Linked DNA regions of Homo sapiens: regions 1 and 2 are each linked to region 3. Evidence: fine-mapped expression QTL. A gene starts in region 3. Each other region holds a variant in brackets. All regions are shown on one strand. Distances are between the middles of the regions.

What was found. PIP is the estimated chance that this variant, and not a neighbour inherited with it, causes the effect. A credible set is the group of variants that fine-mapping cannot tell apart.
Region 1: its variant is the best candidate, but not a certain one, in a credible set for the expression of NALF1 in testis (GTEx, PIP 0.51).
Region 2: its variant is the best candidate, but not a certain one, in a credible set for the expression of NALF1 in thyroid (GTEx, PIP 0.84).

Annotation. Positions count from the first base shown.
Region 1 is chr13:107,769,337-107,773,580 of GRCh38, reverse strand. The region is part of intron 1 of NALF1 (NALCN channel auxiliary factor 1); the gene reads left to right. Among named protein-coding and RNA genes, the nearest start is that of NALF1-IT1, 64 kb to the left of the region's middle. RefSeq lists an enhancer at 2,576-3,129. The variant A/CACACACACAA (reference allele first, on the strand shown) is at 2,333.
Region 2 is chr13:107,830,227-107,834,470 of GRCh38, reverse strand. The region is part of intron 1 of NALF1 (NALCN channel auxiliary factor 1); the gene reads left to right. The region is part of intron 1 of NALF1-IT1 (NALF1 intronic transcript 1); the gene reads left to right. Among named protein-coding and RNA genes, the nearest start is that of NALF1-IT1, 3.1 kb to the left of the region's middle. The variant C/T (reference allele first, on the strand shown) is at 1,581.
Region 3 is chr13:107,865,244-107,869,487 of GRCh38, reverse strand. NALF1 (NALCN channel auxiliary factor 1) reads left to right here and starts at 1,992. Exons shown (of 3, transcript NM_001080396.3): 1 at 1,992-3,806. The coding sequence starts at 2,892. LOC124903206 (heparan sulfate glucosamine 3-O-sulfotransferase 4-like) reads right to left here and starts at 2,815. Exons shown (of 1, transcript XM_047430833.1): 1 at 1-2,815. The coding sequence starts at 2,591. The coding sequence ends at 2,028. RefSeq lists an enhancer at 956-1,524.

The DNA of each region.
Region 1 (4,244 bases), 96 kb after region 3:
AAGAGATCTTTGTAGAATAATACTTGGTTTTAGAAAAATTATTCAAAATACAGGAATAGAATTAGGACAAGAATAAGAAATCAGTCCTTGAAATTATTTTATCAGAATTTTAGCTTATTTAACCCATGGCAAAGTAATTACAAGATTATCCCATAATAACTTGAGGTCTAGCCATATATTAGCTTTAAACAAAGACATTAGTCTTTTCTGCACTGTTTCTGAGCTTGTTTATTCTGAGTATGATTTATCACTCTGAAGTATGATTTATCATGTGTATCAAGATAGTTTCACATTTGCTAGTACTATCTTTGCTTCAGTTCATATTTCTGATGAGAAAATTGAAAGTAATCTATCAAACTGGAGTATGATCAAGGTAAAATATGTCAGACTCTGAATGAAAAACAATAGTCAACTAGCTTCTAACAACACATGGCCAATATACTGCTTACCTTAGTAGTACTTTGTTTCATCTTCTTAATGACATTGAGCTTCTTAAAGGAATTGTAAATTATTCATGTTACCTTGCTGGTGCATAGCAAGGTACACTGTACTCATTTAATCTTCTTTAAATAAAACAAATATGAAATGTAAAAAAAACCCTCTTTTCAAATGTGATAGATAATAAAGATCTATCCTGAAATTTTACATTGCATACAATTTAAACATTATTTTTTAATGGGGAAATAATCACATATGGTAGAGATTTTATACAGAATTTTAAAATGTGGCATTAAAAAAACTTGTTCCATGGAAAACTGCTTTCAGAGATTTTTAATAAGTGTTTCTCTCACATAGGAACCTAAGCTTCTCAGAGCTTTTAATAGGCTTCTAACAGGCTAATAGTCAAGGCCGTGACCCAAGAAGGGATATAGTTCACAGTGTTTTCCACAAATATTTCACCCCAGAATTTCTTTTCTCGTTGAACATGTTTTAGAAAAGCCTGCTGTAAATGATGCTGCAAATCTCACAATGGCTAATTTAGCTTTTACTGATATATTACCTACATTCTTAATTAGGGACTTTTTTTCACATAGCATTTATATAACTCCTGAAACAACTCCCTGAATTTATGTTTTACATTGAACTTATCTCAAAAAAATAGAGACATATTGTATTGTTTGTGCCAGGACAAGATTTTGTTTTTTTCACATTAAATATGGAAACTCTCTAATAATGCATAACAGATCAGACAAATGGTCCACTTACCTCAATATTTTAAAAAATTTTCACTACTAATGGTATAGGAAAGCGGTCCCTATCCAGACCCCAAGAGAAGGTTCTTGGATCTCGCGCAAGAAAGAACTCAGGGCAAGTCCGCAGTGCAAAGTAAAAACAAGTTTATTAAGAAAGTAAAGTAGCCAAAGTGTAGCTACTCCGTAGACAGAGTAGGAGTTCCTGAAAGTAAGAGGAGGGACGGGTCCACCCTAGATACGATACGTGTGTATATGGGGAGATGTGCTCTGCTTCAAGGGTTTGTGATAGAGGATTAATTTTCTTAATTACTATATTTTGCAAGAATCAGTATTATTATTTTTAAAGCAAAATTAGAAATGCCTTTGTTCTCATGTCTGTAACCCCAGCACTTTGGGAGGCCGAGGCGGGCAGATCACGAGGTCAGGAGATCGATACCATCCTGGCCAACATGGTGAGACCCTGTCTCTACTAAAAATACAAAAATTAGCTGGGGGTGGTGGCATGTGCCTGTAGTCCCAACTACTCCAGAGGCTGAGGCAGGAGAATCACTTGAACCCGGGAGGCGGAGGCTGCAGTGAGCCGAGATCGCGCCACTGCACTCCAGCCTGGCGATAGAGCGAGACTCCGTCAAAAAAAGAAAAGAAATGCTTTTGTTCTGCAGATATCTGGATATCTGGACACTCTCAAGTCTGAGTCTATTTAGTAAACATTATTAATTTGTTCCCTTAACAGTAAACATCTACAGGCTAGGAATGCCTTTCTGGAAATGCAGCCCAGCAACTCCTAGCCTCATTTTCCCAACACTGACTCAAAATGGAGTCGCTCTGGTTCGAACGCCTCTGACACTAATATATATTATATATTATACTATATTACATATTATAGATTTTATATATTGTATCATATATGTTTATAATATGCATACATATATACATTTATGCTGTTAAGGAAAACAAAACAAATATTTTATATATGTGTATGCATAAAATGACATGCAATCCAGTTGATAGCCATTAAGTATGTTATGTATTATGATGATAATTATAGGCCTTCTGCAATTTATTTATATTTTCAATTGTAAAACATTTTTTGAAAGCGGATTTCAAGTAATTATCATATACTGACACACACACACACA[A/CACACACACAA]CATGTTAAAATAACATCTCAAACCAATATATAAATTTAGGATTTGGAAACATCCAGAAAGTAAAATTTAAAAGTTCTGTTAATTTTACATTTTGGTAAGATTTGTTTTGTAAATTTAGTCCTTAACATAATGCAAATTTAATCTGCAAGATAGAATACATAGATAGATAAATCGATATTTGACATACAATTTCAAATGAAATTGTTTTATGCCCCTTTGAGGAAACATGTCAGGTGATTTTATTTAAGGAGCTACACCCAGGCTCCCTCATTCCTAGGAAGGAAAAAGACCAGAAACTCACAAGGTCTGCTAAAGGCCAAAGACTATTTAGGCCAAAAGGAATAATGCAACCAAAAGATTGCCAGAAGCAAAGAAAACAAAGCAAAAAAAGAAATCAGCAAGTTATTTCAAAAGGGAAGAGAAAAATGTAAGTCAGGTCATTAAAGATTTAATTGACTAGTACAAAGTCTGTGAGAACAAAGCCATCAAATGAACATTTACAATGAGCCCATTGAGATTTCACCCAGGCCATTAACATGTCTTCCTAATTACAATAGGCAGCTCTCAAAAGGCTGTTAGTAAACCCTGCATTTTGGAGAAACATATTTGGACAATGGCTTGAGAGTGATTAGAAGGATCACTGGATAAGAAAGTTCATATTACTTACTTGTGAAACCATGGTACTTGAAGTCTGTTTCAGAAGTGAAAGCCCAGTTGTAGGTACTTATGAACTGTATTTTTCCTTAAAACGTAGAGCTCTTATTTAATAATAAACTAGAGTTACATTTCTATATTCTATGAATAATTTGTTATGCATAAATAATATTAAATCATTTTTGACATTTTAAAGTTTTAGGCATGCAAAAGAGTTGACAATTTAGAGTTGACCTTTTACCCCTCATCTACACTTTCAAGGAGAACTAAACAACTACCTCTGAATTTTAGGCAGCTCCAAACAGCATAAGTAATCAAAAGAACGTCTTAGATAACTTTGGCTAATGTTGGAGATTATCATTATTATAAAAAACAAAAGTGGGCCCGGCGCGGTGGCTCACGCCTGTAATTCCAGCACTTTGGGAGGCCGAGGCGGGTGGATCACGAGGTCAGGAGATCGAGACCATCCTGGCTAACACGGCGAAACCCCGTCTCTACTAAAAAATACAAAAAATTAGCCGGGCGTGGTGGCGGGTGCCTGTAGTCCCAGCTACTCAGGAGGCTGAGGCAGGAGAATGGTGTGAACCCAGGGGACAGAGCTTGCAGTGAGCCGAGACCGCGCCACTGCACTCTAGCCTGGGTGACAGAGCGAGACTCCGTCTCAACAAAACAAAACAAAACAAAACAAAGCAAAAAAAATTGAATTTTGAAGTTTGAGATATTTGGAGGATGTATATTGATGGAATTCTCTAAGTGGTGATGGTAACCCATTATACTTTAGGCTCAGACAGCAAAACTTTCCACAGCTGGTGATTTAATCAGGGACTGGTGGATTATATAAGGGTTAATGGAACCGTTTTTTTAGGACTAAAACCTGTGTTTATTTCTTCTTTTTTTTTTTTTATTATACTTTAAGTTTTAGGGTACATGTGCACATTGTGCAGGTTAGTTACATATGTATACATGTGCCATGCTGGTGTACTGAACCCACTAACTCGTCATCTAGCATTAGGTATATCTCCCGATGCTATCCCTCCCCCCTCCCCCCACCCCACAACAGTTCCCAGAGTGCGATATTCCCCTTCCTGTGTCCATGTGATCTCATTGTTCAATTCCCACCTATGAGTGAGAATATGCGGTGTTTGGTTTTTTGTTCTTGTGATAGTTTACTGAGAATGATGATTTCCAATTTCATCCACGTCCCTACAAAGGACATGAACTCATCATTTTTTATGGCTGCATAGTATTCCATGGTGT
Region 2 (4,244 bases), 35 kb after region 3:
GATAAATAAAGGCATGATTCATTCATTTTTTCCCCATACTCTTGACATTGATGGTAAGAGCTGTGCAGTTATAAAAAACGTTAAAAATTCAGTCTCTTGCTCTCTGGCTCAAATGTAATGCAGAAGTGGTCTAATTGACCACAGTTGTCCTAAGTGGTCTAATTGACCACAGTTGTCCCTTGGTATTTGAGAGGGATTGGGTTCCAGGATCCCCATGGACACCAAAATCTGTAGATGCTCACATCCCATATTTAACATGGCATAGTATTTGCATCTAACCTATGCATGTTCTCCCATGTACATTAAATCATCTCTAGATTACTCATAATACCGAATACAAAGCAAATGCTATATAACTAGTAATTAGGCTGTATTTTTAAAATTGGTGTTTAATTCTTATTGTCATATTGTTATTTATTATTATGATTACTATCATTATTATTTTTATATTTTCGATCCTCAGTTGAATCCATGGGTACAGAACCTGTAGATATGGAGGGCCAACCATATTAAGTTTGAAATTTCTTCCTCAAAGTTTCCATAGTTTTACAAATTTATATATTAGTGAATGGCATTATTAAAAATTAAAAAAACAGCTTTAAGGTACTTTAATATAATTAAGATAATATGCAAAATACTGGAAATTAAAATACTATTATTAGAAAAAAAGTAAAAGGATGTTATGGAATAATACCTTTACATGAGAAGCATTATCATGGCCTTAGGTAACAGGTGGTCAGAAAGCTTGTCCTTTCTTTCAACATTTTAACTAATTGGTTGAGAAGTTTTTGACTCATGATTTAATCTGTTTCCCCATTGCTTTCGTATGTCAAGTATCTTGTTTTTGACACCTTTGTAATGGAAAGGATTGAGAAGGGGGATGATGATCATTGAACATGAGTAAAAAATACATTTAAACATGGCACCCAAGAAAGTAAATATATTTGGTACTTCATGATAGGGAGATTTGAATGTAGAAGATCTGTTTTAAGAGCTAGAAGTAACAGTGTAAGACAGCTAGCAGGAATAGTTTTCCAAAAATAATCCTATAGATGGAGAAAGAAAAGAGGAGGTGACTTTCATCCCATGAATGCACATTGGACAACAGAGAGCTTATTTTGAACCGAGTGTAAAATCATACCAGTAGTATTCATATGTGTATTCAATACATATCAATTAAGGAAAGGTGTGGTATAGGTAAGACACTGTGCAAGTCACCAAGTCTACCCTGGTGAGCAATGTAGACCTTGTTCTTGTTCCGGAAGCAGTTCAAATTATTCATCAGACGTGTCTTCGTATGTTCAAAGTGGTATGCTAAAGGAGGCGCAGGGACCATCTGAGAGGGCTTCACTTAGCGAGGGCCCTCTGCACAGAAAACTGCAGGGCGGGTACCATTAGCTAGGAGATGGGGCATGTGCGTGGAGCACCAGAGAGGCCAGGGGCCACAGGAAGAATGGAAAAAGTGCTGACTAGCTCCATGGTAGAGTGTGAGGGAGGGGAGGCTACAGATGCCAGCAGGCGCTGTGCTGCTGAAGAAGAAGAGATTGGAGTGTATCCAAGGGCATTGGGAAACTACTGAG[C/T]GCTCTTAAGAAGATGCAGCCTATGATTTGTTGTTTTTGAAAGATCAGTCTTCTGCGGCTTGAACTGGGGGTCAGGAGACAGCAGCACTGTAGGAAGGAAGGTCACTTAGGAGATTCTTGTAATTAGCGAGACAGAGGAGAGCAGAAGCCACACCAGATGGGGCCTGTAAGGGTTGAAGGAAGAGGACAAAGGCTTCTGGCTGCCACAATGGACAGGACTCTATGGATGTTAATGAAAGGAAGAACGAGGAGTTGCGAAGGACCCTGACCCTTCCAATGTAGGCAAGTGAGCAGCAGGTGGTATCATTTCGTAAGACGGGAGAGGCAGACAAACAAGTTTTTGAAGGGTGATGGTGTGGAGTTCAGTTTTGTACATATTAGATTTGAGGTGCTTGTGGGATCCAACTGGGGTTAGCAAATCTTCATTATATACCCCAAATATGAATATTTTATTGCTATATTATGTATATATAAATACATTAGCACTAATGTGCATGTATATATTTATGCACATTCAGTATATATACAAAATATTTACATAAGATGAGATAAAGCTGAAGTAAGCAATATTTTAAAACATTTTTGCCTATGAATGATATATAATATCTTTTTTACTTAAATAGAATGGATTAAATATAATAAATATTATATTAATGATAACATGTTAATTATCAGCTTGAAGGTAGAATAATAGGATTGAATATCCATCATTATTTCTAAAATCTTAGTTTAATATTTAGGATAAAGTGCTTGGAAAATTTACTTGTAGGTTCAGTTCATGTCACAGTTTTGGTTTCAGTACCAGATATAATAGTTTAAAAGATAATCACAAAATGTGTAGTTCTAAATGGAAGGACAATATGGACTTCATGAAATCATTAGACTTTATTTTAATGATGTCCACAAATTATGAAAAATTTTTTTCCTCAAACAATTGAAATGCGATTTTTGAATTCCCATCTTCCTTAAAATTAACTGTCTTTACAAACTAAAAGAATGTTGAATTTTTGCATTATTATCAAATGAATTTAAACCGAAGCTAAACTCTGGAATATTTTGAAATATGTTAGAAAGTTCTCTGTCTGGGCAGAGATGAGAGGTGGCATACATTGTTTTCAACAACAAAATCCCAGGGGCTGCAAATACGCGCAAACATCTTGTTACAAAATACTCTTTCCAAAGCTTAAATGTCTTCCCTGAAATCAGTTACTGTCATTTCTACCTCATCATTATATAATCACCTTTCTCAGAAGTGCCGTTGAGTATGTTTACATTTCAAGCTTGGTTCCAGATTTTTTACTCTTTTTTCTATTGAATCACAGCACTACTCAGTAATTTTAGAACATGTCTTTTTTTTTCTTTTTTTAAGAAAAATAGTTTATTTGTACTTTGACCTAAGCCAAACCAGCGAAACTCTGCAGGGCCCAAGATGTTGCCATGACTACATTCCATCTCTGCAAATTATTATACAATGCTGCTATATTTTAATATATTATTTCTTTAAGTTATGAATAATTGCCAATCTTATTAAGTGCCGAGGCTTACTTTTTAAGAGTTTTAATCTTATTGATTTCTTTAGTTTCTCAAGGCACAGTATACATGTACGGTAAAGTTTATGGTTAGCAATAGTCAATGTAATCCAGAGGTCAAATCGTCTTCTTGATCATTTGAATTTTTAAACTGTCTGTTTTTCAGGTCTGGATGAACTATCTTGGTTTTTACCTTGAAATGTGGATAATGAAAATTTCTTATTCAGAGTAGGAAAAGTGTCAGCATTGCGATTTCTTCTTGATTTATGTGTTTCTATTTTGAGGACACTCTTCAGTCCCAGTTTCTTTGCAGGAATCTTTTACAACTCTGGTTATAAGGAGCTCCTTTAATCCGCACAGCCAGAGTGAGGTCAGCACTGTCAGCCCATGCTCTTTGCGGAACATCCTATTTCCCCCAGGACTTTCATTTTTCATGTAGGACATGGGATTATCTGAGATAAGGATGGGGTGAAGGTACCATTTTAATCCACATATTAAATATGAGTAAGTCTTAATTCCATTCATAGTTTAATACAAAAGGCAAAGGAAGACATCTCTGCACACACACATGCGTCAGTGGCACATCGCATTCTTTGACCTCCCTTTGGAGGCCTGTGGTGCAGAAGGAGCTTAAATATATGGGAAGGGGTGAGATCACACGGAGAGAGTGTTTGGAGGGAAAAAGAGGAGGGATGGAAACACTCAACAACAAGAATCCTCCCCCCGCTCCCCGAAATTGATTAAAACATGGCCAAAGGGCTTGAATAGATATTTCTCCAGCAAAGATACACAAATGGCCAAAAGACATGAAAAGATGTGAAATATTTCTAATCATCAGGGAAACCCAAATCCAAACCACAGTGAGTTACCATTTTCCAGCCATTAGGTTCGCTGTCCCAGAATCAAAAAATAGCAAGTGTTGGCAGGGATATGGAGCGATTGGAACCCTTGTGCATTGTTGGTGGGAATGTAAAATGTACAGCCACTGTGGAAAACAGTATGATGGTTCCTAAAAAATTAAACATACATTTTATACATAGATAATTACCTTGATATTATTCTTAATATATTCAAATAAACAACGACATTTAAAGGAACGAAGGATACAGTGGTGATTGGCCTTTGGAAGACAGAT
Region 3 (4,244 bases):
AAATATATTATTATCTAATAAGTGTGGATGTGTATTCTATCATACTTCAATCCTTCGAAAATGCTGGACTAGTGAATATCACAAAACAGGAAATTAGTAATACAAAATAAAAATGTTAGGAAGATGCTGTAAAATGAAAATACTGATTATATCTGGGTGTTGATATCACCATGACTTTTTAAATTGCTCTTCTGATTTTTACACCTTTTTTACAATGCACAAACTGTACTTGTATAATAATAGTTATGTCAGCGAGAATGTATGCACTCGTATTTAGTTAAGAAATATTGTGGCATGTACAGTACAGTCCTGATTAATAAACAATCTGGTTAATAAATAATAATTTTGTCTGTATTATGAGGAAAAACTGACATTACTCAGAAATTCAACACACTGAAATCGAAAGTACTAGAATGATCTACTTACACAAATCGTCTTTTAAAACACTACATGACACTTGAGTAAACCAGCCATCAAACAGGACGCGGCTTTTGGATGATCATTACCTATAGTTGGTAAGAACTGAAAATTTTTAGGGGTAAAATTTAGTGTATACAGTACCTTATTATGCAGCAGAAGAGGCTAGTAGGTCGAATCCTGCCCAAGAGGTTTTGCAATTTTCTCTTTAAAAAACACCTACTTCTCCCGCATCCCCAACACCCACAGCGCTCCTTAAAGGAAAATGGATACGGATGCCCCATCCCTTTGGTTTCTCAATGCATTTTACTTAGAAAGAGGTCACCTAGTAAGACCCATGTGGTGAATGTGCACCCGGGCGGGGCATGAGGGTCCTTGGAAAGCACCGCAGAGAGGGCGACACCGCAAACCGCTGTCCCACGCGACCCCCGGGGCGAGCCGGGGCAGCGCTGCACTCGGTGCGCACCGGCAGCGTCTGGCACCCACGCCACCTGCTGCTCCCGCGGGTCTGGCAGGGGCAAGGGGCGGAGTGGGCAGGATCTTCAGATCAAAGGAGACCGATGCTTGCCCACGGCATCCAGCGTAGGAGCCGGAATCGAGGTGACCCCAGATTTTCCCAGAGTGTCTGTCTCCTTTCCCTTCTCAGAACTCCGAGAGCCAACGCTAAGGGGCACCAGAGGCTCAGACTGCGGCGGCGACTCGCAGGCACCCAGCTCGCCCGCGGCTGCGGAGGTCCTCGGAGGAGCCCACCCGGGAGGGGGTCTGGACGCAGGCAGCGGGGGCAGAGGGAGGGTCGAAGCCGCTCCAGAGGGTCCAGGTCCGAGGAGGAGCCCTCGGAGACGCGGACGGTGCGCGCGGAGGGCAGGGCTAGGCAGTGACCCCGGGTGGCACAGGGCTTACTGTTTCTTCCTAAGACTCTATGAGGCCACTTCTAATCGTTTACTTTAGAATAGGAAAGAAAACATAGACAAATGGGTGGCTGTCACCCAGGCAGCTACACGGTCGATGCAGGTGCACAGGCGTGCGCGCCATTCTCCCGTGTCACACAGCAGGACGGAATAACTGCACGCACTGGGAGCGATGGATCTCGCGGTCCGGGATCCGAGACGCATTCAGAGACCAAATGTCACCTCATCCCTCCTCTAGCCAATTCGAGCTTCCTCCGCGGACCCCCACCTTCCATCCGAAGTGGCTCGGTCCTTAGTTGAGAGGACTCTGCCCAGACCCTCGCACCAGTAGAGACCTCTGCCCGGGCGCCTGCAACTCGGACGCTTCCCGGAGCCAGAGCGTGCGGGCGGCGCGGCCGCGAGGAGCCTCACCGGCCATGCCGTCCGCAGTCTGACTTTTATTTTTCTCTTCAGTGATTAAAACAAAATATCGTGGACAGGGGGACAGAAAGGAAAGAGCAGGCGCCTGAGCCCGGGGAGCCGGGCGGGGGCCCCCGGGCCCCGCGGCCCCGCCGCCGCCCGCCCCCGCGCGCCTTCTCCCTCCTCCCGGGCCGAGCCGGCGCCACTGCGCCAGGATGGAGCGAGCTCGGCGCGGGAGGAGATGACGCAAAAGCCAGCGCTCCCCCCAAAAAAGTGTTTCTCCAGGACGAAGATGGCGGCAACTTAGCCCGCGGACTGAAGATGACTGTGGCTCTCGGGAGGCCCAGCCCAGGCGATTCGGCCCGGAGCTCCGCGGGAGGCGGCGTCAGCAGTCGGAGCCCCGGCGGCGGCGCCCGCGGGCGGCCCTGCGGCAGCGGCGGCGGCGGCGGCGGCGGCGGCAGCACTTAGAGCGCGGGGTGGGGGGTGGGGGGGAGGGAGCGCCCCGCCGGAGGCAGCCCAGGCTCCGGACTCTGGGAGAGCCAGCGCGGAGCAGGAGCGGGAGGCGGAGGAGAAGAAGAAGGAGAAGGAAAGGAAGGAGGAGGAAGAGGAGGAGAAGAAGAGGAGGAGGAGGAGGAGGAGGGGAGGCGCTCCGGGCGCCGTCAGTGGGCAGCGGAGGCGCGGCATGCCCCTGGCAGGGGAGAGCGGGCTGGGCTCCGCGGGGCCATGGGGACCCGCGCGCTGACAATGCCTGGGTGACCGGAGCCGCGCCAGCCACCCTGTCACCTCCACCATCGCCCCCTGCACCCAGCCTCGCCGCCGGCCACCAGCACCAGCCTCCTCCGTCTCTCTCTCTCTCTCTCTCTCCATTATTGTTTCCCACTCTACAGAGGATGGGGTCGGCTGATGATTAGGAAGCAAGTCAGACCTTCCTTCAAAGCCTGGTAATATTTATGTAGGCAAAAGAGACAGAGAGAGATAAAAGAGAGGGAGAGGGAGAGAGAGAGAGAGGAGAGAGGGAGAGGGGAAGAGAGAGAAAGAGAGAGAGGAGAGAGAAGAAACGGGAGGAGGGGATAAGGAAATTAAACCCTTTAAGTCAATGCATATTGTGGTGACACCGGCACAGGCGCCCTCACGGTGGAGTCGGCCAGGGCTGTGCGTTCCCAAAATATGACCAGGGGTGCTTGGATGTGTCGGCAGTATGACGACGGCTTAAAAATCTGGTTGGCAGCACCCCGAGAGAACGAGAAACCGTTCATCGATTCCGAGAGGGCTCAGAAATGGCGACTGTCTCTGGCATCTCTCTTGTTTTTCACAGTCCTGCTCTCTGATCACTTGTGGTTCTGCGCCGAGGCCAAGCTGACCCGGGCCCGGGACAAGGAGCACCAGCAGCAGCAGCGGCAGCAGCAGCAGCAGCAGCAGCAGCAGAGGCAGCGGCAGCAGCAGCAGCAGCAGCGGCGGCAGCAGGAGCCCTCCTGGCCCGCGCTCCTGGCGAGCATGGGGGAGTCCTCGCCCGCCGCCCAGGCACACAGACTCCTCTCCGCCTCCTCGTCCCCCACCCTGCCCCCCTCCCCGGGAGACGGCGGCGGCGGCGGCGGCAAGGGCAACCGAGGCAAAGACGACCGGGGCAAGGCTCTTTTTCTAGGAAACTCTGCCAAGCCCGTGTGGCGCCTGGAGACTTGTTACCCCCAGGGCGCGTCCTCGGGCCAGTGCTTCACGGTGGAGAATGCGGACGCGGTGTGCGCCAGGAACTGGAGTCGGGGGGCGGCCGGGGGGGACGGGCAGGAGGTGAGGAGCAAGCATCCCACTCCGCTCTGGAACTTGTCGGATTTTTACCTTTCGTTTTGTAATTCCTACACACTTTGGGAGTTGTTCTCGGGGTTGTCCAGTCCCAACACTTTGAACTGCAGTCTGGATGTGGTGCTCAAGGAAGGCGGCGAGATGACCACTTGCAGGCAGTGCGTCGAGGCTTACCAGGACTATGACCACCATGCTCAGGAGAAATACGAAGAGTTTGAAAGCGTGCTCCACAAATATTTACAGTCGGAGGAGTACTCGGTGAAATCCTGTCCTGAAGACTGTAAGGTAGGAACCCTCGGGGGTTTCCCCCTTTCCTGCACTTTCCTATCTCTGCTTGGTTGGGGTGTCTTCTCAAGTTTATTATTATTATTTTTTGGCTATGGTTTTGTTACTTTGTGTTTTCTGCGGTTATTAAGAGCTTGGCTTGCTGTTTGAGATGAGAATACCTGGTGGATTGCTGGTGGACTGACTGATGCCTTCTTCTGGGAGTCCTTGGAAGATCAGGGAAGTCCCCGGTTATCTGAGATAATCAAGCTGGCACTTTAACTGTTTCTTACATTCATGCAGTTGGCTCAAACTCTGTTACATCTTTTAAGAAAAGGAAGTTGAAAAAGTCTTGTCAGGAAAATAGCAATGAGACTGCACACTGATGCTCACAGGTAAAGTCAGAAGAGTTCGAGACAGGCATGTGTGGTTTGCAATATAGATCTGCACACAGGAACG